2 separate regions of the Homo sapiens genome follow, and region 2 is linked to region 1. The links come from fine-mapping of genetic effects on gene expression. A gene starts in region 1. The other region holds a variant in brackets. All regions are shown on one strand. Distances are from middle to middle. Region 1 holds the start of ASB13 (ankyrin repeat and SOCS box containing 13). Region 2 overlaps ASB13 (ankyrin repeat and SOCS box containing 13).

What was found. PIP is the estimated chance that this variant, and not a neighbour inherited with it, causes the effect.
Region 2: its variant is fine-mapped to the expression of ASB13 in whole blood (TOPMed, PIP 0.95).

Annotation. Positions count from the first base shown.
Region 1 is chr10:5,664,976-5,667,735 of GRCh38, reverse strand. It overlaps ASB13 (ankyrin repeat and SOCS box containing 13), which reads left to right and starts at 1,141. Exons shown (of 6, transcript NM_024701.4): 1 at 1,141-1,227. The coding sequence starts at 1,185. RefSeq lists silencers at 1,138-1,207, 1,508-1,557.
Region 2 is chr10:5,643,435-5,646,194 of GRCh38, reverse strand. The region is part of intron 4 of ASB13 (ankyrin repeat and SOCS box containing 13); the gene reads left to right. Among named protein-coding and RNA genes, the nearest start is that of ASB13, 22 kb to the left of the region's middle. The variant C/T (reference allele first, on the strand shown) is at 1,233.

The sequences.
Region 1 (2,760 bases):
CTGGACTGCAGATGGAGACCTGGGTCATCCCAGAAGCTTTGTAGTGTGAGAGATCAAACTGGCTGCTCTGCCAGGCCTCACCTATTTCCAGACTGGATGATTCCTGATACTTTTACTTTTGAGCCCAAACTAACTTCTGCATGGAGGTTCAGTACAGGTCAGGTGAGTGACGAATCTCCTGACAGGGCTACAGTGAACTTTCACAAGGTTAAACCTTCTAAACTTGGGAAGCTGCTTTGCAAAAATAAATAAATAAAATAAAAATCCCTTACTCAATTGTTGACTGGGTATTATTCCGGAAACAGGAAACAGGTTTTTCATTTCTGCCAGGTTGTGCCCCAGCTTCCATTTGCTAAGCAGCTTAGGGGAACATTGGATTAAAAACCACCCGTAAAGAAAAGGCATTAAGAAATTGATTTGAACGATTTGAAATTATTATCTTGAAAGATCAAAGAAACAGTGATTATGAACACCGGCTCTGGTGGGAAGCGGTTCTTGAAAGTTAAAGCATGGGGGAACTCGAGTACTCTGGAGCATCATCAGCATCTGTACAATGCAAGTGAACTCTGGAAGCTAGACGCATGCTTTGCACGTGGACACAGACACATGCTTGCACAGGACACATTTGCAATACATACATGTTTATACATGGACACATGTTTTGCACACGCTTGCACAGGACACGCTTGCACAGGACACATGCACAGGATGCATGTTTTGTACAGGACACATGTTTTGCACATGGAAACACATATCCATGCTTTGCAAAGGGACACAGGGAAGCATGCTTACAATGGATACAAGTTTACACACGGACGCATGTTTTGCACAGGACATATGCACAGGATGCATGTTTTGCACACGGACACACACGTTTACATAGGACAAGTGCACAGGACACGTTTTGCACCGGACGTATTCTGTGCACGGGACGCACGGTTTGCAGATGCAAGCACACACACTCCTCGGCGCGACGGGCGAAGCGGGGTGGGCAGCGACAGCGGAGTCCGGACCCAGGGACAGCGCCTCCGGGAACCTCGCCAAGGCGGCGGGAACTACAACTCCCGGCTCGGTCGCCTCGGGACGACGCGCGGCCCAGCGCAGACTGGCCCCGCCCAGCGGCCCCGCGCGGCCCGGCCCAGGTCCCGGCGCCCAGAGTCGCCGCGCGGCCGCCGGTGAGCCGCATGGAGCCCCGGGCGGCGGACGGCTGCTTCCTGGGCGACGTGGGTACGTGCGGGCGCCGCGGAGGTCAGAGCGAGGCAGCGGCGCCGGCTCCTGAGGCCGGCCGCGTATCCGATGGCCTGCGCCGGGGAGGTGGTGGCGCGCCCCGCGCTGGCTCCGTGGGCGGGGGCGTTTGGCGGGGTGGGCCGCGGTGAAAGCAGGGTCCCAGTGGTGCCGCGCATCCCAGACGGGCTCTCATGTCTGGTGCCTTGTCCCAGGCCAGCGCACTGCGGGGTTGCAGTCCGTGCGGCTCGCCAGGTGTGGGGTTTCGCAACCGCAAACCCACCGAGCGCCGCGCGCCCTGGGGAAGGTGCGGGACGCGTGCGGGGCCGTTGCCCAGTGGCGGGGGAGAGCCTGGGAAACGCCCACGGTGCTCCCTCTCGGGGAAGCCAGGCGCGAGCCCACGGTAAGAGCTAAACCCCCCTCCACTGGCGCGGGTGAGGCCGTGGCGCAGTGTCCGAGCATCCTGCAGAGGCGTCCGCGTGACCCCGACTCCGCTCCAGTGAAGGTGGCCTTGGGGCACCCCGGCACACTCCGAAAAGTGCCATCCCAGTTCGCAGCCTACTTTACCAAAATCCGAGCAGCCCAAGAATGAAATGGATTTGAGGGAAGGACACTCTTTGGGGAAGCAAATTTTTTTGCTGCCTATGAAGCAATAATATGGTCACTGAAATGAGCGACGGAAGCACTATGAAAGCCTAAAAAGAAAAAAAAAATCTAAAGCATATTCATCCTGGTAAAAACAGTAGTGCACCTAAGAGGGAAAAGTCTTAAGGGTAAATTTAGCTGAAGAGGAAGTTGCAGTCATAGCAAGGCAAAGATATTTTAATTGACTTTGCAAAATAACCACCTTTGACATGATCAAAGGTATCTAATAAGCATGTGTTTTTACTTGGCATTCCAGTCCAGGCAAGCACAAGACTTTGACCCTGACACTGTGATCTGCATTTGATTAGCTTAATTGAGTAAGCAGTGAATAGCTAACGGCAGAAGCTTATTTAAACACATATTTTAATATTTCTGTTCATGGCATCACTTCTGAGCATGTCTTCTGCATCGTTTGTTATGGAATGCATCTGTAGAAGAAAGGCACATTTTAAACTAATGAATCCGCAACTTTTGAGGTTCACTGGTATTTTTGACATTGTCATTTTTTATTTAATATATTTCTCCCCAAATAAGTTCTGCTGATGTTTTTTATTCCCAGTGTAATGAATAAGCTGAATGTGTTGGATCCAAAACAATACTGCCATTCCAGCAGCACCAGAGGCGAACCGTAGGAGCTTTAGACAATTTTAACATTCTGACCTCAAATTCTGGATGTGTGGTGTACCGCGACCAAAACATTTAGGTTTTGGGCTGTTGCGCAGTCTCTCATGCCTGTAATGCCAGCACTTTGGGAGGCCGAGGCAGGTGGATCACTTGAAGTCAGGAGTTCGAGACCAGCCTGGCCAACATGGCGAAACCCCGTCTCTACTAAAAATACAAAAATTAGCCGAGCATTGTGGCGGGTGCCTGTAGTTCCAGCTACTTGGGAGA
Region 2 (2,760 bases), 22 kb after region 1:
GGCAGCTGTGAGGCCCACTGTCGCCCTAAAGTGGGGTTCCCACAGCTCTCCCCGGGAGTTTGCATGCCCCTGGGGAGTTAGAGGTGAACGTGGCTTTCTTGGGGAAGCCTCCGCACAGTGACTGTTGGTGTTGGCTCGATGCTGTGGGTAGCATCCAGCCATCAGCTCCACGCGGGATTCCTGGTTCCCATCCTACTCTTGGGTGGTCTCCTCTAGTACCCCTTGTGAGAGCAGATGGATCATCATCTTCTTCTTAGAAACCATTTTTTCATTGCGGAAAATTTCAAACATACAGAGGAGAGAGAAACAACAGCATCCCCTACGTCCTCACAAACAGATTTTTAAAAAGTAGTGATTCTGATCTTTTGGGGTCAGGTCACAGATCCCTCGGGAAACCAAAGGAAAGCCAGGGACCGTGTCTCTAGAAAAACAGAAGAGTGGAAAGTCCCTTTTCCTGCACCCCTCCCCAGTCCCTTTGCCCAAACTTTGCCAAATTCTGATCGGCTCAAGCCTGGATCATTTGAACCAGTTACTGTGGAGAGGGGAGAGGGATTGAACCAGTCGGGGCCCACATGAGTGCAGGTGCTTTCATGTGCGGTTTGAGAGCTGAGCTGTGAGGCAGAGCCACGTTGCACCCCACGGGGGACGTGGAGACCGTTGTTCTTGTTCTTTGTAGGCAGTGAGGCGAGTCCAGGAACCAGATTGTATTTGCAAAGGAGGAGGGCTGGGGAGGGTGAAAGTCCGGTTATGATGGTGAAGTAATTTTTAATCTGATCACTGACAGTGAATGTTGAACTCTGCCAGGAGTGTTCGGAAGCGGCTCCCTGAGGACGGTCCTGCTTCCACCTTTGTTCTTAGCACTGGCCCTGGCACAATTTAAAAAATTTTTTTAAAATTGTTGTTTAATTTTTAAAAAATTTTTTAATTATAATTTTTTAAATTTAATTTTTTTTTTCAATTTCTCTTGTGGTAACAAGCACCTATTGAGCTATTTGTGTTTATGTTCCAGGATTGTGCCAGTCTTGGCGTGCTAAGGTCTTAGGCGGTCCCGTCACGTCACTGGCCACGGGTTCTCTGAATCCACTTTAATCCTATTTTGTGTTGAAAGCAGGATTTTGGTAATGAGCCTGTGTTGACCCCTTTTCTCTGAAGCACGAAGTTCAGAGCTTTTAATTCCCTGCTTGTTTCCTGGCTCCCTGTCTTTGTCTCTCTCTGTCTCTGTGTCTCTGTCT[C/T]TGCCTCAGTCTTTCTCTTGCCTCTCAGTTCAAGGTATGTTACCATCCTTGCTTCACACAAAGTTACTTTCTTTCCCTCTCCTACCCTCTTTCTCTCTTCCTTCTTTCCTCTGTATCTGTTCCCTTCTTTCTTTCTTTTTTTTCTGAGATGGAGTCTCGTTCTGTCACCCAGGCTGGAGTGCAGTGGTGTGATCTCTGCTCACTGCAGCCTCCATCTCCCTGGTTCAAGCGATTCTCATGCCTGAGCCTCCTGAGTAGCTGGGATTATAGATGTGCACCACCACGCCCAGGTAATTTTTGGATTTTTAGTAGAGACGAGGTTTCACCATATTGGCTAGGCTGGTCTTGAACTCCTGACCTCAGGTGATCTGCCCGCCTCAGGCTCTCAAAGTGCTGGGATTACAGGCATGAGCCACCGTGTCTGGCCCTGTTTTCCTCTAACGAGTACCTGTTTATGTTCTCTTTCTCACTATGGGCCTCACTCTGTCATCCAGGCTGGAGTGCAGTGGTACGATCGTGGCTTGCTGCAGCCTCAACCTCCCGGGCTCAAGTGATCCTCCTACCTCAGCCTCCAGAGTAGGTGGGACCACAGATGTGTGCCATCACGCCCCCCGGGTAATTTTTAAATTTTTGTAGAGCTAGGGTCTCACTATGTTGCGCAGGCTGGTCTCGATTTCCTGGGCCCAAGAGATCCGCTCGCCTCGAATTCCCAAAGTGCTGAGATTACAGGCGTGAGCCCTGTACCTGGCCCAAGCATATATTTTTAATGAACATAGCTGATCGAGTTTCATCTCTGACTCTCTTCTTGGCTCACTCAGTGCTATACTTTCAGGATCCATCCATGTAGCTGCCTGCACCCCTGGCCTGGTGTTTCCCTTCAATCCCTTATTCACAATTTCATTTCCTTCCTTATTCACCTTCCTTCCCTTCCACCCAATCAAATGATGCCAAACACACATTTTGAAAAGATGTACATTGGGAAGGCTGCCTCCCTGCAAGAGCCCCTGGCCAAGGCCTCGTCTGTGGAGCGTGGCAGGGAGCGTGATTTTTAGAGCTCTTTCCAGCCATGGTTTTCTCCCTGATCGTGAGAGAGTAGCTGTGCCTCCCTTGGGCCTCTTTCTCTGTTTTTCTTCTTTTGTTAAAATAGAGACCATCTCTTTCTCTCCCAATTGGCAAGAATATTGCCAGAATTAATGACATGAGAGAAAGCTACTTGAACTTTAGATTCTGTGGATGGTACAATTTGTTTTTCATTACAAGCATATGTTTAGTGTTAAAATTTACTTCGTGTTATGATTGCAACATTATACTGGAGGAAAACCCCTTATGTGAAAGAGAGGTTGAATTGTGGGGAAATATTTCTTTAATCTATTGCTTTTGAATATTATTTTTTTGTAGTACATTTCTGCCAAATTCAGGACATAGATAAGTTAGCATTTTTCCTAGTTGAGAGATCCTTTTCCTGTTCTGACTTCTGAGTTTTGGCTGCGGGAAGTGGAAAGAACTTTCTTAAATTATGTCATCACTT